Regions from separate parts of the Homo sapiens genome. Here region 1 is linked to region 2. The links come from fine-mapping of genetic effects on gene expression. A gene starts in region 2. The other region holds a variant in brackets. All regions are shown on one strand. Distances are from middle to middle.

Region 1 (12,159 bases), 67 kb after region 2:
GTATTTCCATATTGTTAGATACTTAAATTATTTCTAGTTTCTTGCTATTATAGATAACATTGATGTCAACCTCATTTTAAAATAAATCTTCAAAAATGTTTGAAGTATTTCTTAGATTTCCAGAAGTGTGGTTTACATATAAAAACTATTTAAAATAATAGTTTAAAATAATTTAAAATATATACACAATGAATCATTTTAAGGAATGAATATTTTCATAACCAAATACCCAATATTGCCTATCCATAAACCATCTGACTATGTCTATGTAGACATATATGTATTTACCATCTATTTAGCTAGCTATTATTTATATGACTGTATCAGTCCATCATCTACCTTTACCTTTTATTTAAAAAAAATAGGCTGGGCGCAGTGGCTCACGCCTGTAATCCCAGCACTTTGGGAGGCCACGGCGGGCGGATCACGAGGTCAGGAGATCGAGACCATCCTGGCTAACACGGTGAAACCCCGTCTCTACTAAAAAATACAAAAAATTAGCCAGGCGTGTTGGCGGGCGCCTGTAGTCCCAGCTACTCGGGAGGCTGAGGCAGGAGAATGGCGTGAACTCGGGAGGCGGAGCTTGCAGTGAGCCAAGATCGCACCACTGCACTCCAGCCTGGGCAACAGAACAAGACTACGTCTCAAAAAATAAAAATAAAAAATAAAAAATAAGCTTGCTATGTCACTTGAAGATTTAAGTCTCAACACCTTCTAAATTCCTTAAATTATTTAAATGTTTAGGTATGTAATCCAACGTCTCTAATTTTGGTTCACATTTGATTAAGGAACTGTTTCTCCCAAAGTAATTCTCCTGTCTTTTATTTCTCATATTGCTTTGTCAAATAAACATGAGGTTTGTACATGAATCTTTTTTCAGTAACAATGCTCATTGCTGAGAAGATTTTATGAATTGAACGCAAAGAGAATAGCTGACACTTCAGAGACATCACCTGAAGCTGCCATGGTGAGGGATGAATCGCTGAATAACCACAACTTGTGGGGGAGGATGCTCTCCACACTGCAGGACTTCACGTTTTTACCCATTGCATTATCACTGCCAGGGGCGGCACTTGCATGGATATATTCCATTTGTATATGGAATACATCATCTCCTTCCCTTAGCAGAGCCTGTACCAGGACAAATACACAGATCATACTTGAAATAGTAGCTTCTTATTTTAACAAATTTGCTTGTAAACAAATGTACACCAGGTCTTAATTTCCATTTATTAATTTTTCTTCTCCCACCGTTGTTATATCTTGAAGTTTCCAGCTTACAAAAAATTTTCAATAAAACAATTAATATCTGTATGCCCATCACCTCAATTCACCAATTGTTAGCATTTTGCTACATTTGCTTCTCTATGTATGTGTGTATGCACACACACATATATACAAGTACATGTATGTATATACATGTACATGCATATATACACACATATACATATACAGGCATGTATACACATACATATGCATATACAAATGTATACACATATATACATATATAAATGCACATGTGCACACACACCCATATATGTAAACTCATATATGATTAACACATATCCATATATTAAAAAAATGAACGATTTGTAAGTTGTGGGCATCATGATCCTTCACCAGGGCTAGAATCAGGATTAGGTGAGTGAGGCAAAAAATTTAAGAGGGCAAAAAAAGTCATTGATGTGCATATTTTAGTGCACTGTTTTGAAAAGTCAATGTTAAGGCAAAAAGCCCATGATAGCCAAAATAGCCTGCAAGACAGGCTCTTGTTGTTTATGTCCCTGCATTATTGTGCAATGAGAATAGTGTTTCCAATCAGCCTCTGGTTCTGGGATATGTGGCTGCTGGGTTTTTGAGGAGTGACAATGCCATGCAAACAGATTGGGCAACGCAGGCTTTATACATACTTGTGTTTTGACTGCGCAGCTTACATTAACTTTTTATACTTGGTGCAAAATATGCATAAAGGCATACATTTCCCTTTTGGCCTCTTGCTCCCATATGGTTCAGCACAGAGCAGTTCAGTGTGCATCTCCTAAGAACACAGAGATTCTCCTGTGGAACTGTGGTGTAGTAATCACACACAGGAGGTTTGACACTGATGCACAACTATCCTGTATATCCAGATTTAAGTTCTCACACTTGTGGCATTAATGATATATTTTCTGTCATGTTCCACCATTCAGGATCTCTTTGAGGATCATGCATCGAACGTAGTTACCAAGTCTCTTTATTCTCTTTTAATCTAGAAAGCTTCCCGTCCCCGCTTTTGACTTTCATGCCATTGGCATTTTTGAAGAGTCCAGTCCCATTGTTATGTGATTATCTCTCAATTTTGATCCGCCTGATTGTTTCCTCAAGAATACTGCATAATGCCAGATTTTTGAAAAAACACATTCTTATTTGAGTCTTATCGTACTGCTTGGCGGAGTAGGACTGACTGACTTCTCTCTAAAGCAGTAGAAGCAGAGTATTCCACGTTGTCAGAGCAGATGTATACCTTTTAGGTGTTAAAGGTTTTGTGCTAGAAAAATTGCCAGCTGAAATAAGAAGAAGCTTCAGCTCCTGGACCAACTTTGACTGATTGGAAGTGACTTTGAAGGCTCCCCCAAGGTCTCAGTGTAACTGAGCATCCCAGCCTCAAAATGCATTTTAAAACTTTTTTTTTTCTTTCTTGCTTTCAGCGTTGAAACATACTTTGAAACTCTTTGTTTCTCTCTTTTCCACCAGGCACTTTTGTGAACAGTGCTCACTTATCTAATTACATGCTTGCTTAGAAATTCCAGGGGTCAATTTTTAAGCAAAAAAAAAAAAAAAGGCACAGAGACCCAGCAGCAGAATCCTCCTGCTTGGGGGAGTTATGAACAGTTAGCCCACCACTACCGGGCAGAAGTGAGGATGACACAAACTGGACTTCCGGGCTGGCGATTAGTAAAGATAGCCATGGGAAAGAGACACACAGAGCTCTTCCCTCCCTTGATATTCCCACATTTTCCCACACCTTTTTCCTCCATAAACCCCTTCACTCAGCCCAAAAAGTTGGAACGGTCTTTCAAAGGCAGGCCATTCTCCAACTGGTAATGTGTCCGGAGTTGGTTCCTTCCAGTGGGTTCTTGGTCTTGCTGACTTCAAGAATGAAACCATGGACCTTTGTGGTGAGTGTTACAGCTCTTAAAGGTGGCACAGACCCAAAGAGTGAGCAGCAGCAAGATTTATTCTGGAGAGTGAAAGAACAAAGCTTCCACAGCATGGAAGGAGACCCGAGCAGGTTGCTGCTGCTGGCTGGGGGGGTGGCCAGCTTTTATTCCCTTATTTGTCCCCGCCCACATCCTGCAGATTGGTCCATTTTACAGAGCGCTGATTGGTCCATTTTACAGAGTGCTGATTGGTGCATTTACAATCCTTTAGCTAGACACAGAGCACCGATTGGTGCGTTTTTACAGAGTGCTAATTGGTGCATTTACAATCCTTTGGACACAGAGCGCTGATTGGCGTGTTTTTAAGTGCTGATTGGTGCATTTACAATCCTTTAGCTAGACACAGAGTGCTGATTGGTGCATTTTTACAGAGTACTGATTGGTGCGCTTACAATCCTTTAGCTAGACACAGAGCACTGATTGGTGCGTTTTTACAGAGTGCTGATTGGTGCGTTTACAATCCTTTAGCTAGACACAGAGCGCTATTGGTGGGTTTTTATGGAGTGCTGATTGGTCCTTTTACAATTCTTTAGCTAGACACAAAAGTTCTCCAAGTCCCCACTCCACCCAGGAATTCCAGCTGGCTTCATCTCTCAGCAGCATTTAGATAAAGTTGATTTCCTTTCACCATACCTCTCGCTTCTTAAGTTTTCAGCCTCTTAGCAGCTGGACTTGAGCCGGCTACATTGGGGAGGAAAGAGTCTCCTAAACCATACCTGAGGTGTGCCTTGGACATCTAAGTGAGGGGTGGGGCAGAGGCCCTGGCTAGTGTGAACACTGCTCCTGGTGAGGAATGACTGTGGCCTTATCATCTGCTGCAGGCAACGATCATTCTGTTTTCTAACCTAACCTGTGCCAATTTCACTGAACATCCAGACACACACACTGACACACACCAAGGCTGACTAGAAGTTGGTAAGATTGCTTTTCTCTTATGGCTGTTGGTAAGCCAACCAATTTCTCCATAATCAAAGCTCATACACATGTGATTCAACTTTATCCTCATACAAATCCACAAATGCATGAACTCCCCTTGTAAAGAACTGTTGTTAAACAGTTTAAAAATTCATCTCCAATCCTCCTATTCACTGGTGTTGATCAACATCATAAATAAAATGAGAAGATTAAAGGCTGATGAATTAATTCCCTCCCAGGTACTAGGGAAACAACCTGGAAATCTTCTTTATTGTCATTTTGGAACTTAATTTTGAATATGGAAAAGGCTTATCTACTTGGAATTTAATTAAAAGTAAATAAAGAAGCTGTAGTACAAAGATTTTACTGGGAAGGAAAGGAAATAGTATCCAGTTTCCCCATTGTGCCCTTCTGTTCAACTCCTCATCCAGTCTGTGTTGGGAATCAATTCCTCACTCTCTGCCAAACAAATGTATCATTCTTCAGATCTTTCCTGATGGAGTGGTAAAGAATTTGTATGCTTATGGCCTTCTCAGTTAATTCTGCAAATAGAGATAGAGGGAAGTTTAGTAGTGTTTATCCAAATTTTAAATGAGCAGCCTCTTTTCAAAAAGTGCAATTTGTATTGAGATCATTACAGATTCACATGCAGTTGTAAGAAATCACATAGAGATCTCCAGTGCACTTTGCCCAGTTTCCCTCAATGGTGACTTTTTGCAAAACTATAGTACAATATTGTAACTGGGAAATCAACATTCATACAATCTACTGATCTTATTCAATTCCCCGGTTTTACTTGTACTCATTCCTGTGTGTGTCTTCAGTTTTATACAATTTATTACATGTGCATAAGTATGCCTTTGACTTAGCATTTCCACTCTTAGGAATCTCTCCTCTAGAAATATTTGCCTATGTGCACAAAGCCACATGTACAAAAATATGAACTTTAGTCCTTTCATAGTACTAACAGAAATAATGACATTCTGCTTGCATCATTAGGAGCATAATTAAATACTTCTGGCACAATATGGAATGCTATGCAACAGTGAATAAAGACAGGAGCATACCTATAAAAGCTGATATGGAAAGCTCTCACAGACAAAATAAGTGTAAAAAGCATAGAATAATAGAATAATATAGGGGCCGGGTGCGGTGGCTCACGCCTGTAATCCTAGCACTTTGGGAGGCCAAGGAAGGGGGATCACGTGAGATCAGGAGTTTGAGGCCAGCCTGGCCAACATGGTGAAACCCTGTTTCTACTAAAAATACTAAAATTAGCTGGGCACAGTGGTGCGCTCCTGTAATCCCAGGTACTCAGGAGGCTGAGGCAGGAGAATTGCTTGAGCTCAGGAGGTGAAAGTTGCAGTGAGCCGATATGACACCATGGCACTCGAGTCCAGGTGACAAAGTGAGACCCTGTCTCAAAAAAAAAAGAATAATATAGGTACATTTATGTGGAAAATGTAAATTGATAAATGTGCATACATGTGTATGCATATAAATGCCTTTAAAAACGTGAATTACACCCCTCAAACTGTTAATAACAGCCACCAAATGTTTTAACTGAGACTCCGTAAATCTAAAACATCTAGGCCTCATCTTTGGCATTAAGACAAATCTGCAATCACTTCACAGCCAGTCTATGCTTGAGACTTAACTCAGAGCCTTCCCCCATGGGGATGAAAAATCCTCTTCTACCTGGAAGAGAGGAATGGTGGGAGTCTAGAGGTGCCTGTCAGCCTGAAGTAGCACCCAGGGGTGTGAGGCAACTGGGTTTATCTGAAAAGACATGGACACAGTACATCCAAATTTTTTTTTTTTTGAGGTGGAGTCTCGCACTGTCGCCTGGGCTAGAGTGCAGTGGCATGATCTCGGCTCACTGCAACCTCTGCCTCCTGGGTTCAAGCGATTCTCCTGCCTCAGCATCCCGAGTAGCTGGGATTACAGGCGCCTGCCACCAGGCCCAGCTAATTTTTTTGTATTTTTAGTAGAGACGGGGTTTCACTATGTTAGTCAGGCTGGTCTCAAACTCCTGACCTCGTGATCCGCCCGCCTTGGCCTCCCAAAGTGCCGGGATTACAGGCATGAGCCACCGCGCCCGGCCCCTAATGTTTTGTATAAGCAAAAACAGCAAAACGTTAACAAAATAAATTTTAGTAATTCACAATGAAAAGATAGCAGGTCTCTTCCACATCTCAGGCCACCTAGCAATCCATTTTTCCAATTGCAACCGTTCATTATTTATTTAGAAGTTAAAATGAGTGGAGGAGGGGTGAGGTAGGACATTTAGTGAAATTCTTGCAGCTGAAAGGAACAAATGGTTCTTTCCAAAGGTACATTTTTTGTAACATATAGACACATTT[C/TC]CCATAAGAAACTCCCAGCACAATTGAAAGCACATGTACAGATGGCCAGGGCGTGCTGTGCATGTTACTGTGCAAGCAATTCAGCAGGGCTGCTGCAAAACCAGCTTTCTCAGCTCTGGGTGCTCGGGCTTGTCTCCATAACAAGCTACCATGTAACAAACGGATCTCAGCAGGGTGAACAACAGTTGCAGAAAGTGAGCTGTTTCCTTCACCCCCACCCTGCTCCCTTCACTCTCAAAAGTTACAAACTGAGTTTCCTTCCTGATAAACTCCAAGGCTTCCTCACTGATTGGTCTCAGTTTGGGAAAGGACGTGACATCAGCAACTTCGCAGACTTAGGGCTGGAGGGTTCTTGTGGCCTCTGGCGGGCCTCCAGCCAGTTAGGTAAAACGTGTGTGTGTGTGTGTGTGTGTGTGTGTGTACACGAGCGCATGCCTCTCTCTGATCACAGGTAGCACTCAGATTACCCTGCCTGCTCTGTGCTTTGCTGCAGACCATTTGACCAGAACGTGTGCAGCTCAGCCAGCCACAGAACTGGAATTTTTCAGGAGCAGGGGGAGCATGGAGTTTGGACTTTGCTGAGCAACTGAAGTGGAGCGCAGAGCTTGCTCGCTTAGGAGAGAGCATCATGGATGGCAAACAAGGGGGCATGGATGGGAGCAAGCCCGCGGGGCCAAGGGACTTTCCTGGCATCAGGCTTCTTTCAAACCCATTGATGGGCGGTGAGTCATAGGGGCAGTGGAATCAGCCCTGGGGAGGTTGGCTAATGTGCTTAGGAGAGGAGGGTTGGGCAGTTTCAGTGGCTCTGTGTGAGGTGTCCATGGGGCTGTTACTGGGCAGATGTCCACAGCTCACTGGTATATATTCTTTACACAGCTGTTCAAAAATGTGTATACTTCTTTCTGCAGAATCCTACAGACAAGACAAATTCAATTGTCACAAATTATTCTCCAGTGAAAATTTCAGCTCCCAGGAATCATTCTTTGTGGGTCAAATGCATTATTTATTAAATTGGAGGTTTGAAAGTTACTTATAAATAGGAAAATTTTTAATGCTAAAACTTTTTAATTTGTAAGTCTTAGGTGTTTGGCATTTAGGTGGGGCAGGGTTTATAAAGATGTTCAAACATTGAGCACTGATTGAGTCACTTTCAAAAGAGACAAAAGAGACTTTGTTTTACTTAAAACATTGGAGAATCATCTTACAGGTATTGTTCTCATCTGTCAAGTGGTGTCTGTGCTAATGTACAGAATCCCACAAATACACACTTCGGTGAGCATTCAGCAGGTGCCTGTTGGCTGAAAGGATTCTGAAAAATGGGTTTAGGCATTTGCACACAGGTTCTTATAAATAATAGTATATTGGTTAGTAATATACTGGTTAACTCTCCAGCCCCAAGTCTGCAAACTTGCTGATGTCACGTCCTTTCCCAAACTGAGACCAATCAGTGAGGAAACCTTGGAGTTTATCGGGAAGGAAACTCAAAGTTCGTAACTTTCGGAGAGCAAAGGGAGCAGCAGGGTGAGGGTGAAGGCAACAGCTCACTTTCTGCAACTGTTGTTCACCCTGTTGAGATCCTTGGGGGCTTGTGACGGAGACAAGCCCCAGCACCCAGAGCTGGGAAAGCTGGTGTTGCAGCAGCCCTGCTGAATTGCTGTATTTATTATTTATTAATTTTTTTTTCTTTTTGAGACGGAGTCTTGCTCTGTGGCCCAGGCTGGAGTGCAGTGGCGCGATCTCGACTCACTGCAACCTCCGCCTCCCGGGTTCAGGCCTGTATATATAGGCGGGGCACGGTGGTTTACGCCTGTAATCCCAGTACTTTCGGAGGCCGAGGCGGGCAGATCACGATGTCAGGATACCATCCTGGCCAACATGATGAAATTCCGTCGCTACCTAAAATACAAAAATTAGCTGGGTGTGATGGCACGTGCCTGTAATCCCAGCTACTCGGGAGGCTGAGGCAGGAGAATCACTTGAACCCGGGAGGCGGAGGTTGCAGTGCACCTAGATCTCGCCACAGCACTCCAGCCTGGCGACAGAGTGAGACTCCGTATCAAAGAAAAAAGAAAAAAATATATACCTGGTATACTGTCCACAGCACCTGTTGATCAAAGGGGCAATAAACAGGGACCCTGAAGTCAGGGTGTTTTGTTTTGTTTTGTTTTTTTGAGACGGAGTCTCATTCTGTCGCCTGGGCTGGAGTGCAATGGCGAGATCTCCGCTCACTGCAACCTCTGCCTCCCGGGTTCAAGAGATTCTCCTGCCTCAGCCTCCCGAGTAGCTGGGATTATAAGCGCCCGCCACCACACCCGGCTAATTTTTGTATTTTTAGTAGAGACGGGGTTTCACCACGTTGGCCAGGCTGGTCTAGAACTCCTGACCTCAGGTGATCTGCCCGCCTGGGCCTCCCAAAGTGCTGGGATTACAGGTGTGAGCCACCACGCCCGGCCGTCAGTCAGGGTTTATTAATCTACTATACAGGTACCAAAAAGGTAAAAATGGAAGAAATAAAACACAAAACGTCTTCCCTTTGACTGAGTAGACTAGCCTGCTCATTCATTCATTCATTTATCCAATTTCACTTATAAAATGAGCAGAGTACTCAATGGTGAGTGGGATTTAGATCCACAAAGGCAGAACTGGATTAATCAGCAGATGTATTGAGCATGAGTTTGGAGAACTAGGAAAGCAAGAGTGGCATCAAAAATCACTTTTCACAAAGAATTTCTTTTTTTTTTTTTTTTTTTGTTTTTTTTGAAGTGGAGTTTCACTCTGTCACCCAGGCTGGAATGCAGTGGAGCAATCTCAGCTCACTGCAAACTCCACCTTCCCGTGTTCAAGCGACTTTCCTGCCTCAGCCTCCTGAGTAGCTGGGATTACAGGCGTCCGCCACCACACCCAGCTGATTTTTGTATTTTTAGTAGAGACGGGGTTTCACCATGTTAGCCAGGATGGTCTCAATCTCCTGACCTCGTGATCCGCCCGCCTTGGCCTCCCAAAGTGCTGGGATTACAGGCGTGAGCCACCACGCCCGGCCACTTTTTACAAGGAATTATATATATAATTATATATATATATATATTTTTTTTTTAGATGGAGTCTCGCTCTGTTACCAGGCTGGAGTGCAGTGGCACCATCTCGGCTCACTGCAACCTCGGCCTCCTGGGTTCAAGCAATTCTGCCTCAGGAGGGAGAGGCAGGGACTAGGTGGGACTACAGGCACACGCCTGGCTAATTTTTTGGGGTGTTTTTTTTTTGTATTTTAGTAGAGACGGGGTTTCACCATGTTGCCCCAGGCTGGTCTCCAACTCCTGAGCTCAGGGAAGTCTGCCCGCCTCGGCCTCCCAAAGTGCTAGGATTACAGGTGTGAGCCACTGTGCCCGGCCGATAAATATATTTTTAAAACAGCAAACCAATCATTATGGGAAAGAATCGGTAATTTGGTTGACTTCTGCACGGTTATTTTATAGCTAAGTATTGTATTTATTTTTGTTTCCACATGGGAGAGAGGCACCAGCCACTTTTCACTGTTAGGGTTTCTTTTTCTTTTTTTTTTTTTTTTTTGAGATGGAGTCTCGCTCTGTCGCCCAGGCTGGAGTGCAGTGGCACAATCTTGGCTCACTGCAAGCTCCGCCTCCCGGGTTCACGCCATTCTCCTGCCTCAGCCTCCTGAGTAGCTGGGACTACAGGCGCCCGCCACCACGCCCGGCTAATTTTTTGTATTTTTAGTAGAGACGGGGTTTCACCATGTTAGCCAGGATGGTCTCAATCTCCTGACCTCGTGATCCACCCACCTTGGCCTCCCAAAGTGCTGGGATTACAGGCGTGAGCCAACTGTTCAGGATTTCTAAAGTTCCTAATACAACCCTGGTGGGGTCAGGGTGGGTGAGTGGGAGTGGGCAGGTGTTATACGCAAAGGCATGGTGCTTGTAAAGTCAACAAGTTTTTACAGCTAGAGTGCAAAATGTGAATGTCTTAGGGAGTCTAGTGAGAACAAGTTTGAAGAGATGGAGTGGCAGATAAAGCTTGAAGAGCTAAGTGGAGGAGGTCAGGCTTCATGAGGCAGGAAATTGAGAGCCATTGGTGGTTCTAGAACAGAGACCTGGTAATAAGGCTGTAGGTCAATTAACATGGTAGCCACAGCTGGGATAGATTGTGTTGGAATCGTGGGAGATGGTTGCATTCATCCAGTGGTTCTCAAATTCTCATGTGCCTCTACATCACCTGGAGAGCTTATTGAAATACAGATAATGCAGCTTCTGGCTGGGCACGGTGGCTCACGCCTGTAATCCCAGCACTTTGGGAGGCTGAGGTGGGCGGATCACTTGAGGTCAGGAGTTCCAGACCAGCCTATCCAACATGGTGAAACCCCATCTCTACTAAAAATACAAACATTTGACTGGGTGCAGTGCCTCACACCTGTAATCCCAGCACTTTGGGAGGCCGAGGCAGGCGGATCACCTGAGGTTGGGAGTTCCAGACCAGCCTGACCAACATGGAGAAACCCAGTCTTTACTAAAAATACAAAATTAGCCGGGCATGGTGGTGCATGCCTGTAATCCCAGCTACCCGGGAGGCTGAGGCAGGAAAGTCGCTTGAACCCGGGAGGCAGAGGTTGTGGTGAGCCGAGATCACACCACTGCACTCCAACCTGGGCAACAAGAGTGAAACTCTGTCTCAAAAAAAAAAAAAAAAATTAGCTGGGTGTGTTGGCACATGCCTGTAGTCCCAGCTACTTAGGAGGCCGAGGCAGGAGAATTGCTTGAACTTGGGAGGGCGGAGGTTGCAGTGAGCTGAGATCATGCCACTGTACTCCAGCCTGGGCAACAGAGCGAGACTCTGTCTCAAAAAAAAAAAATGCAGATGATGCAGCTTTTGATGAAGTCGTAGGCCTGGGGTGGGGGCCTAGGAATCTGCATTCATAACAAACTCCCAGGTGAAATGGATGGTACTGGTCAGGGACCATACTTTGAAAACTACTGCACTAATCCAACCATGAAACTTACATTTGGATCGAACTTTGGAAATGACAGAGAAAGGGCGATGATTTCAAAGGAAAGATAAATCAGCGTATGTTGCTTGATTAAATGTTGGAACTAACAGAAGGCAGGCAAAATTATAAGGTTCTCAAGCCCAAAGTAATGTCAGATAAGCTAGATAAGAGGGAAGTTGGAAAGGAAGTTGCCTTGGATGCAGGATGAGGAGGGGAGGATACAGAGTTCTGTTTTGGACATGATAGTGCTAACAATGATGCCCAGTGCACAGTATGATGACATGGGACTGAGACTTAGGAACGATCACAGGTTAGAAGCCAGATACCTCAGAATGTCCTACAGAGGGGCTGTGGTTGAAACCTAGGGAAGGGAGAAATTGTCCAATGGCTAAGAGCTGAGAGTCAACCAAGGATGGAACCCTGGGACAGGCCTCCAGTTGATGAAGTAGGACCAGTAAGTTGGACAGAGAAGCAGAAAGAGATTCTGGATGTTGTAATTACACAGGTGCTAAGGGAAGAGAAGTTTTCAAAGAAGTAGAAGTCACAAGGGTAGGTGCCTGGATACTTCTGGTTTCTTACCTCCTGTTGTGAATCTGACTGGCAAATTGCTACTCACCTTCTACACCCAGCTGAGCCATTGCCCCCATGAAGCCCTCCTAGACTTTCCACCTCTCCCTACTCAAGT
Region 2 (11,809 bases):
TTACTTTGCTTATCCTCGACTGGTAAAAAGAGGGGATGTATCACTAAGGAGAAAAGACCTGAATTTAAGGACAGACTCTGCCACCTAAACACATTGTAAGCCTGAACAATGTCATCGAGCCTCAGTTTTCTCATCTGTCAAATGTAAATGATAATCTCATTTCCCTAAATCTCAGAATTGATAATTTCATTAGAGTTACGATTAGTGAAAAAAAAAAATTGAACAATACAATGTACCTTATAGCTCAAAGGAATTATTCTGAAGGAAAAAAGCAAGACTGAGCAAATCTCAGAAGCTTGGGACCTCTGAGATGTTCTTGGCTTATACTGGATCCTTGGATCTGTCCTAAAACCAACTCAAACCATGTTTTGGCTCGAAATGCCTCTGGCTTCATAATTGCCATTTAGATGGAGATTATCATAGGGAATTCTAAGCTAAGCCAAAACTCAATGTGATCTGGCTTTGTGCTTCTAAAACCCCTCCCTCTTCTTCCTCCTTAATTCCCAATTACCATCAAGATCTGCACTTGGATCCCTGACGCTGGGTCAGGATGGGTCTGGTCCTTGAGGGCGGAGGTGGGGTAACTGGCCTGTTGCTTTCTTAGAGTTCACTAGACATTGCACAGGAATATTTGTCATACTAACAGCCCTGGAACGTGAGTTGAAAATCCTCAACTTGTTGCAAAATAAAAGTATGTGAGAAACTCCAAGAGCTTTAAGCAAACACAATAAATGCCAGCAATGCATGATGTCCCTGATTACGCCACAGGGCCAGAGAATTATTAATGTGACAGCACACGTCATAAATCTATGACTAAAACAGTGTGGCAGGAGGCCCTTTAGAGATGGAAACAGATTAGGCAGCATGATGATCAGAGTTGAATGAAGATTAAAATACTGTCTGAGAGACTTGATAAAGGAAATTATACAAACATTACGTTTTAATGCCCTTAAGAAAAGCCATAGTTCAGTGAAAATTGTGAGCTTAATAGATTTGGTCAGCAAGAGCTGGACTTTGCCTAATTTAGTCTTAATCCTCAGTGTGAGAACAATGTCTTGCATATATTAGGTACTCAATAAATATTTAATAAATAATAAGTTATTACATTGATTTTGTGGCCAGCCAATGAAATTATCTCTTTAAAAAGTGAAGAGTAATTTTACATAGCTCATGTTTTTCAAACTCAGCTAAATTATATGCATGTCTGAATTATTCAGATGTTGCAACTCTAGAAAGGAATTTAATCTATTCTCAAAATATTTATGAAATGAAAAGGAGCAAAAAAATTCTGTTATTTGACCCTTATTAATGGCTTCATGAAAGAAAGTCTGCCTTTGGTAATTTTATCACTGATATTGTTCTGAAACAGTGGTCAGTAAGCTATGGCCCATAGGCCACTTTCAGCTCACTGCCTGTTGTTTTGGTAAATACTGCTTTATTGGAACACAGTTATGCTCATTTGTTGATGTATTGTCTATGGCTACTTTTATTCTACAACAGCAGAGTTGAGTAGTTGGGGACAGAGACTGTTTGGCTTGCAATGCCTAAAATATTTACTCTTTGGTCCATTACAGAAAAAGTTAGCCAACCGCTTGTGTAAAAATATTTCTTATTTTATCACGTCATCAATGAACATTAAATATAATGAATTAGACTGCTTCTTGAACCCCTATAAGAAATGGCACTTTTACCTGGCCTTGATCGATTGTTGGAATCAACTGGCCTCACCTTATTTGAGTCATTGTGTAGTGTGCAACCCAATGAAGCTAAAAAGTTACAGTGATTTAAATTTCAGGTTTCCACAATTCAAATAAAGTCATGGATACATTTATTGATGGGTTCTAGTTATGTTTGTGGTATAGCTCTAAAATGTTAGTGTTGATGGCGTGGACTCTAAATAGAGATAGTGCATAAACATATTAGTTTTTTTTTTGTTTGTTTGTTTTTTCTCTTTTTTCCAATGCCCTGGGTAAAGTAAATACTCCTAAAGAGTAAGGGGATTTTTTTTTTTTTTTTTGAGACAGAGTCTCACTCTGTCACCCAGGCTGGAGTGCAGTGGCACAATCTTGGCTCACTGCAACCTCTGCCTCCCAAGTTCAAGTGATTCTGCTGCCTCAGCCTCCTGAGTAGCTGAGATTACAGGCTACAGGCACCCGCCACCATGCCTAGCTAATTTTTGTATTTTTTAGTAGAAACGGAGTTTCACTATGTTAGCCAGGATGGTCTCGATCTCCTGACCTTGTGATCCACCCGCCTCGGCCTCCCAAAGTGCTGGGATTACAGGCGTGAGCCACCGCACCCGGACCAGGATTTTTTTTTTTTTTTTAAAGCATAAGCCCGCAAGGACAGGGTAAATGATAAAGTCAACAGAAACAACAATGTTCTGAAAGCTGAAAAGCACGTAGATAAGTTGTAAATGATGTGGCCGACCTGAAAAAAAAAATAATTTAAGCCAACAGTCTGGAAAGATGAGTTCCCAAAAGGCTCAGAAGTGGGTGTCCCAAGCACCTCTAGAAATGGGAGGGATGAGAGGGGTGCTAAAATGAGGTTCATTCCAAAAATCTGTATAAGAAACAGTTTGATCCCAAATCTTCTCCCACATTCCCTGTGGTGGAGTGACTGCTCCTTCCAACCCCAGGCAAAAGATGGGTTATTAGTCGTTTGGCTAAGGTAAAAGAGAGAGCATCCTGAATGGGGGATGCCTGACATCCATGAGGGCAGGGTGCTGAACTAACAAGAGGATTAAGTGAACGCGTACATACTAGGTGCAACCACAATTCAGGCAGTTGGATCTGTACTGGAAAAGTATTTCTCTAGGGGGAATCTTACCAGCCTAAGAGAAAAGACCTAAAAAGGACTGAAATTAGCTGGGGGAGGGACTATCAAATGGAACAGCCCAAAGAGGTCATCAAGCCCCATTCCTGGGCTCAGACCTCAGATCAGCTCCTTTGTCCCTTTCTTTTAAGTATGAGCAAGCAAGCATGAATTCCCAGACCTCCAGGGAAAATTTCTAACATGAAAGACAGAGAGTAAAACACACAGAAAAAGGCAATTTGGAGGAAACAGAAGAAAACTTCAAATCATTAATAGCCAGGGGATGAGGGAAGAAGGTGAGACAGTGCAACTAATAAATAAAATGAAGGTGTTATTAAAAAAGAAAATGTCAGAGGACATAATTGAGCCCTAGGAAACTAAAACTATTATAATAAATTGAAAATTCAATAGAACAAAAAAGGAAGACAGAGTTGAAGAAATTTCCTATGAAGTAGAATAAATAAGAAATTAAAAGTGAAAAGATAAGAAGGTCTAACATCAGAATAACTGAAGTTACAGGAAATGAGAAGAGACACAATAGGAGATGTAATCAACAATTTAAAAATTCAAGAGAATTTCGAAGCACATGAGTTGGCAAGTGAAAAGGCTCTCTGAGTCCCTAGTCCAAAAGGTGAAACTATGCCTATACCAAGGCACAAAATGATGAAATTTCAGGACACGGGAGACTAAGAGATAATGTATAAGTTTCCAGAGTAAAGAAAAATTATGATAACTTCAAACAAAGGGCCAGGAATCCGAATGAAATTAGTTTTCTCAATAGCAACACCAAAAGCTAGCAGGCTAGAGCAATGCTGCTAAACTTCTGAAGGAAAATAATTTCTGGCCTACTATTTGGCACCCAAACTATCAATAAAATTGGAGGGCTGAAAAATAAATTTTCAGACATTAAAGTTCTTAGAAAATCTCCCGATCTCCCATGCAGTCTTCTTTAGGAGGCTACTGGAGGACGGTCTTCAAAAAAGGGTGCTAAAACGAAAAGGAAGACATCACTCAAACAAATCCCAATATCCTGTGATTTTCCTTGTCTCTCTCTTTTTTTTTATTGCCACGAGAAAACATCAGGTCCTCATTGCCTCTAGTCTAGAGCTAGTTTCTTAAGCTATAATGTGCATACTATCATTCCAGATCTTGTTAAATTGCAGATTCAGATTTAGCAGGTCTGGAGAATCTGAGAGTCTGCACTTCTGACCAGCTCCCAGTTGCTGTTGCTGATCTGCAGCCCCTACTTTAAATTGCAAGGAGGCTTCTGGACTACTGGAACAGCCTAACTGGTCTCTTCTCCAGCTGTGCCACTCTTTCACCTTCCTTTTCTCCAGTTCTTGGAACAATTTTCCTAGGACAAAGCTTTGATTGTGGTTTGACATTTCATCTCATATTCTGCATCAAAAAGAAGTAACTGCCTTAGTTACTCTTTTCCACCACACTAACCTTTGTTTCAACAGTGTGTAGCCTAAAGCTTATCAATATGAGTTTTAAAAATGCTAGTAACATCTTCATGTTCAAGGTATCTAATTGATTCTTTTATATCCACTGGTGTTTGTTTAATTTCTGCATGTTTTTATTTCCAAATTCTTATTCTTTTAAAAATGTCATTTCAAAAATTATTTGAATTGCGTCTAGAGTGAATTCTTCTTCCATTGTTACATTTGTGTGTTGTCTTTCTTAATATTATATATCTTCCATTGTTTTTGAATTTTGGTTTATAAACCAATCTTGAGAGCTCTCTCTCTCTCGCTCTCACTCTCACTCTCTCCTCTCCCCGTGTGTGTGTGTGTGTATGTGTGTGTGTGTGTGTGTGTGTGTGTGTGTGTGCTTATATCCCCCAGACTAGCAGTGATAGTGGAAAATTGCAAATTATGTTGCTTGGCTCAGTTCTGTTAGCAAAGTTATATCCTCAGACTGTTGGCAAAAAATTCTTTCAATGTCTATTCACAAGTAGGGGAGATGGTTAAGCAATAAGGCTTGGTTATCTATTGCTATGTAACAAATCACCCAAAAACTTAATGTTTTGAGACAATAACGATTTATTATTTCTCATAATTCTGTGGGTTAGTTAGGATCAGCTAAGTGGTTCTTTCCACATAGTATAGGCTGAAGTCACTCCAGTGGTTATATTAAATTGGGAACTCACTTACTGCTGGAATGCCCAAGATGACCTCTCATTCTTCAGGGCTTCTCTCCATGTGGCTTGCCATTATCCAATATCTTGTCTGAGCTTCACAGCATGGTCATTGGCTTTCAAGAGGAAAGGTTCCAACAAGATGCATCCCAGTAAATAAACACTTATTAAGCATCTGTGGCATCTCATTTGGCCATTCCAGTCACATGCTCAAACCCAGAGCCAATGTGGGAGAGGATTAGACAAGGCTGCCAATATGGAATACTGGTTTATTGAAGGTCACCGTTGTAACAGTCTCTCACAAAACTGGTTCCTGTATCAAGCCACACATGGAACCCTGTTAGTCTATTATTCTACAGGGGCTGAACCCTGGTTCACATCTTCCTGCTGCCACATACAGAATCCAGGACCTAGGTGGCTTTGTTCCTGATCACCATTTTGCGTATTGGTTCTGTTTCTGATACACGGAAATGTTTATCTTCTTGTTTAAATCACAGGTAAAACATTAAATTTTCTCATTTATATTGTATCACTTATTGTTATATTTGAAGCAGAATCAGGAGTTAGGAGTCTCAAAATACTAATTGAAAATGTGATCTTGGCTGGAAGTCCGCCTCAACATCAAGCCCATTTTCCTTAGTAATATCTTCTACCAGTTTGCTCTAACCTTCATTGATAATGCCACTCTTCTTCTGTCTGCCCACTTTCCCTTCTCTTTTCCTTTGTGATTACAAAGCAGTGTTTGCTGGACAGCACCTGTCTGTACCTCATTCATGTTGTTCTTGGAATTACCCTGTTCCCAAGAGTTGCATGACACCATCTACTTATTCTTCTAGCTAAATGCTGGCAGCTAGAAATACTCTTCCCCTTTGAACTCCCAATATTTTTCTTATATTTCTCTTATGGCATTTATCACTTCCTGCTTTTTATCGTAGATATTTACATATGCCTTAACTCTGTATTGTTTCCTTGCAAGTAAAGCTCATGCCAGGTTTTCTCTGCATCGTGCTTTGTACACAGATAGTAGGCTCTCAAGACATGTTTGTTGCCTTCGCACTCCAAGATTATCCCAAAGAGCTAATTTACATATGAAGTTGCAAAAACTGAATTTCAAGGGAAGATGATATCTACATTTATTTTACATCTTCATCATCTCAGGTCGTTTAATACTAAAACTGGTACCAATTGCCCTCATATTTTATTAAGTGCAATCAGAATATAATGCATGTAAGTATCTTAGTCTAATTTTAGTGGTTCCGGAGAAAATTCTCTCAAGACATACCTTGAGACCATACATTAAGGCAGGACACCATAATTAGAATCATCTCCAGATTTATATCTTAATCTTGCTACTACAAATTTCTTTTGACTTTTTAGAATATAGCCTTAAATGGAGACCTTTACTTAACTGACTATAAATGAAGTCATGTACCCAGGTGAGATTATGAACCCTTGGGAGTCGGAATCATGATTTATTTATCTTTTAATGCTCAGTGCCTAGGACAGAAGCTGGAGCTTTAAATAAATGTTCAATGTTTTCAGACTTTGTTGGAACAGCCTGCAGGCTCCTCAACGCCCTCCCCCACAGAGACTCAGCAACAGTGTGCCTCTATTAATATCTATTTATAAAGGTCAGCCTATTCTATATTTGAAACACAAAGAACCTTTTAAGAAAGGTGGATTTCTTTTGACTATTGATAACATGTACAGGAAAAGCTAGAAAAAATAAAAAGCTGTTGAAACACAGGGACTATGCTTAATATTTCTTGTATTCCCCACAAGGCCTTTTACAGAGCAGACATCCAGTAAATGTTTGATGATAAAAATAAGAAATATTTGTTATATTTTGAAAAAAGATTCATGGTGGAATTTCAAACGTGTACTGTGATCAGAACTATGGCAGGGGCAAACCAGGGGCTCAATAAGTGAGGCTTAACCCTCATTTATACCTTCCAGGATTTCTACCCCCACTCTTTGTCTTAAAACCTATTACAAAAATGGAAAGGAGGCCAAATGCTGTACCTATCTGGTAATGTCGCTGTTATCTGTGAAACCAACTACAAATTATAAAGCTTAATTAAGTGTCCTTGAGTCTTCATCACTGTAATTCTCCGATGCTTCATCAATATTAACACAGGGCAAAGTATCGATTGCTACTCTAGTCTTACTCATCAACTCATTAATTCGCTTCAAATCTCACAACTAAAATGCTCTTTCAATGATGTTATTGCACTGTAATTTGTATAAGGTACACTCCACGAAATACTGTCAATACATTTTATTGTGAGCATCTAATATGTGTCAGGGAGTGTGCTGACATTGGGTAAAGAAATTCATGTATTAAACTAAAACTTCCTCAACATCCATTACCAAGAACAGATCCTGCCTCAGTTTACTATCTGGCAGGGAAGGCAGACATTTAACAAGCAAATACAATTTCCGTTTTCAGAAAGAAGTCCATGTGAGATCTCAAGAGACAAGTAATCAAGGATCAGGGTGAGGAGGGAGAATGCAATCAGGCAAACAACTTGAATATCATCTGATAAATGTTATACTTTGGCCAGCATGTGGCCAAAGTACTATTAAAATTAAAAAGTGAGAGTATTTCATTCTCTGGAGGCTTGGGGAAAGCATCAGAAAGGAGCAGACATTTTCAGGGATGAATAGGCTTACACTAGGCTTAATAAAATGGGTGCCAGTAACGGTGGCTGTGATGGTACTCAGAAAGGAATTTCTTCTCGAAAACGCACGTATGGCAGGGATGGGGGATTCCAAGTACCAGCTGTGACGCATGGATGACCGTCATACCACTCTCACTGATTCTTTAGCTTCCTAGTCAAGCACCATCGTAACTAGTTGAACCAGTCGAGTGGGAGTTGATATTTCAGATCAGACCTCGTATGTTTCCCTCAGAGTGTAGAATTGCCATATAAATAACAGGATGTCTAGTTAAATTTACATGTCCGATAAAAAACGAATGTGTAGTGAAGTCCCCAATATTTGGTACATGCTTGTATTAAACATCATTTGTGCTTTATCTGAAATTAAAACTTCATAGTTTCATCTGTTTTGACTTTTTGTGTATTTTTATTTATTTATCTGGCAAACGTCCCAGAGCGGTAAGAACCGGCACGGTTTTGCCGTGGCACAGCTGATTACAAACAAAAAGTCTCTCCAATCAGAAGCAAGCGCGCAGAGAACTGGCGTCCGGAATAGAGACGCTGTAACCAGGAAACCAGGGTGAGCACCCACCCTACCGTCGGCCGCTTCTAGGAGACGGGCGCAGGCGCGCGCTGACGTTACATCTCGCGCTTAAGGGTGGGGACGACAGAGCGTCTCTCTCGGACGTGACCTCAGCGCCTCTTTGTGATTGGCTGCCTCGGGGGCGCGGCCCTTGGGCGCGGACGCCCTAGATTGGTGCTGCGGAACAGCAGGGAGGGACTCCGGCTGCAGCCGCGGGAGGTCCGGACACTGGCGGCCATGGAACTCACCGGTGAGTGCGCGTCGCGCCGCCCCTCTCCAGCGCTCTGGGCCGCTTTCGGATGGGGCTGTTCTGCGCGCGTGGGATCGTGGCGGGTGGTGGAGGGGGTGAAACCGACCCGGTTCGAAGCCCGGAAGTTGGGTCGGAGGGTCTCCAGAGTAGGTTGGGGCTGAGGGTGCGTTTAGGGCGGACGCGCTGGGTTCCTTGGCTCAGGCGGGTGGGTCGAGGGACTGGGGTCTCCGGAACCCCGGGCCTGAGACCAACGTCCACTCTTTGGTTGTTTTCTTTCTCTCTTTGGGCCTGGCCATCCCCGCCATGAACCCAGCGGGGTCGCTGTCTGAGCAGGGGTATCCCCTCCTTGGCCCGAGCGTTTCCCCAGCGACCTCTCAGGGAATCAGGGAATGAAGCTCAGACAGTGCCCAGGAATTGTCGGTGGAAGTACCATTCTCTTGACCCACAACTCCTGCCAGGTCTCCCTAAGGTTCTTCAGGAACCTCTACTGCTAATGATTGCCCAGGGCTCGTTGGTCGTGGTCGAGAATTTTACGGTAATGTCTTTGCCACTTTAAGTGGCTGGGTGGGAACCTTGGACAAATCACTCAACTTGTCTGGGTTCTCATTTGTAAAACGAGAGAGGTATTCACTAGAGCTCCAAGCCTCATTTCGGCTTTAAGAGCTAAGATTCTGCGATTGTGCAGCATAATGAACTTTTATGTCAAAGATGTTTGGACTGAAAACCTGGCGGAAGTGGGCAGACTCCTCACAGAACGTTGCAGGCTAATGACAACATTTTAAATGATATCATTTGGTTCATTACTCACTGTTTTTGCTATCGTTCATCTTTTAAAACTGGTAGAACTGGAAGTTCGGGTTTAGGTGACCACAGTAAGAAAATGTTAGTTAAGCCACCTAAAAGTACAAACTTGGGGAATTTCAATATTTGGTAATATTGAATCTTAATTAGTAAACTCAGTCAACAAACACTTCTGGGGTCTTTCCGAGAGTATATTTAAAATGTAGATGAGGCCGGGCACGGTGGCTCACACCTGTAATCCCAGCACTTTGGGAGGCCGAGGCTGGTGGATCACCTGAGGTCAGGGGTTCGAGACCAGCCTGGCCAACATGATGAAACCCCGTCTCTACTAAAAATACAAAAATTAGCTGGGCTTGTGGTGTGCGCCTGTAATTCCAGCTATTCAGGAGGCTGAAGTGGGAGAATCGCTTGAACTCGGGAGGCAGAGGCTGCAGTGAGACGAGATCGCTCCACTGCACACTAGCCTGGGCAACAGAGTGAGACTCCGTCTCAAAAAAAAAAAAAAAAAAAAAAAGTAGATGAATTTGTTGGAGAGACTAGACAGTTAAGCCTTTGCACATACAGTTAATTGGCATTTTCTGAGTTTGCAGGTGAAACCGGAAACTCAGAGCTTTAGGATGGCTTCTCATTGTATAGTTGTTTGTTTTCTGGAGCCTTGGAAATCTCATTTGTAAAGCTGAGGAAGATTTTGACTAGATATCCAAGATTCTTTTTAGCTTTAAGTGTCTAAGAATGTACAGTAGTACTAAATATTGAGTGGGCATTTCACATTAATAAAGCTTTAGGGGACCCCTGAGATAAACATTTCGCACTTTAAATTGAGAAAATGGTCCCAGATACAGCCCATCTCTAGTTTAGCCTTTATCTTTAGACACCGCACTGAAGGGAGGGACACTCATTGAGTTTGAAAGGCCTGCATAACTGATAGAAAAGTTTAAAAAGTGAAGGGAGCAGTTACATAATCACCCTCTTTGGTTTTTGTGTTTCTGTTTTTTGTTTTTGTTTTGTTTTGTTTTTTTGAGATGGAGTCTCGCTGTGTCACCCTGGCTGGAGTGCAGCGGCGCGATCTCGGCTCACTGCAACTTCGGACTCCCGGGTTCAAGCGGTTCTCCTGCCTCAGCCTCCCGAGTAGCTAGGACCACAGGCAGGCACCACCACGCCCAGCTAATTTTTGTATTTTTAATAGAGATGAGGTTTCTTCATGTTGGCCAGGCTGGTCTTGAACTCCTGACCTCAGGTGATCCACCCACCTCAGCCTCCCAAAGTGCTAGGATTACAGGCGTGAGCCACCGCACCCGGCCTAAATAATCACCCTCTTTGAATAAGGAAGGAGAACATGTGTGCAGCATGTGCTCTGGTGACATTTGAAAAAGGTGCTCTCAAAAAGATAGTTCGAGCTCCGGGTGTGTTTTAGTGTAAACCACAAAGGTAATGCTAGCAAAACTTTGAGAGTAATTGAATCAGTGGCTAAGCTATAGAGCAGGGGTTGGCAAACTTTAGTAGAGGACCAGATGGTAAATATTTTCAGCTCTGTGGGTCATATGGTCTCTGTTGTAGCTACTCTGCTCTTGTAGCACAAAAGTAGCCATTCACATAAATGAATGGGCACACCTATGAGCCTATAAAACTTTACAAAAACAGGCAGTGGACCAGTATAACCGAGTTTGGATCCTGGCCTGTTTTAGTTGTCTGTTATTTTTTACCAAACCACCCCAAGACGATGTAAAACAATAGCCATTTTGGTATGTTTCATGATACTGCAGTGAGCTAGGCTCAGCTGGGTGGTTCTCTTGGTCTTGCCAGTGGTCACTAGGAGGCTGCATTTAGCTGGTAAGTTGGCTGGATGGCTGGGCCTCTGGCTCTTTCCATGTAGTCTCAGAGCTCTTCCTTCTCCATATTATCTCTTCCCTTGTCCCTCTAGCACAGTAGATGGATTCCTTACACTTTGGCTTAGGATATCTAAGAGTGCACAAGTGAAAACCACCACACCTTGGAAATCACCACACCTTTTTTAGGCCGAGGCCAAAAATTTGCACATCACTTTCACTACCTTCTATGGGCTAAACCAGGTCCAAATGCAACGGGAAGGGACTATACTATAGAAGGGCATAAATACCAGAAGACATGACCGCTAATGAATCAGACTGCTACATTGTGTTACCTCTAAGCACTGAATAACTGAACAAATTTCTTAACCCCTTTAAGCTTTAGACTTTCCATTTATAAGATGGAGTTGATAACTCATGGAGTTTTGGTGAGGCTGCAATAAGATATAGAAGAGTCTTAGCATGTAGTAGCTGATGTATAGTGGCCATTTAATAAGTATTAATAGAAGCTGGTAAAGTATAAGAGTAAAGGGGAAATATATAAATGTGTGTATGTATGTGTGTATATATACTTAATTATTGGAAGAGACTGGTTTGTTAACGTGGTAAACCATGATATGCTGTGGTGTAACAAACTTACTATTTAAAGTTACATGTAGCAGTATTTTTAGGGCAAAATTAAGACATGGTAGAACCTAGTTTTGTTGTATGTAAATGCCAAGCAAGTAAATGTCA

Alleles and levels. Alleles are on the strand shown, and positions count from the first base shown. SD is a standard deviation of normalised expression in the study named.
As copies of TC replace C in region 1, the expression in fibroblasts of the gene that starts at base 8,425 in region 2 goes down (small effect, 0.20 SD a copy in GTEx).

Evidence for each region. PIP is the estimated chance that this variant, and not a neighbour inherited with it, causes the effect.
Region 1: its variant is fine-mapped to the expression of PIGA in fibroblasts (GTEx, PIP above 0.99).

What each region holds. Positions count from the first base shown.
Region 1 is chrX:15,264,822-15,276,980 of GRCh38, reverse strand. It overlaps ASB9 (ankyrin repeat and SOCS box containing 9), which reads left to right and starts at 6,898. Exons shown (of 7, transcript NM_001031739.3): 1 at 6,898-7,200. The coding sequence starts at 7,107. The variant C/TC (reference allele first, on the strand shown) is at 6,479.
Region 2 is chrX:15,332,139-15,343,947 of GRCh38, reverse strand. It overlaps PIGA (phosphatidylinositol glycan anchor biosynthesis class A), which reads left to right and starts at 8,425. Exons shown (of 6, transcript NM_002641.4): 1 at 8,425-8,447. RefSeq lists enhancers at 8,494-8,573, 8,624-8,673.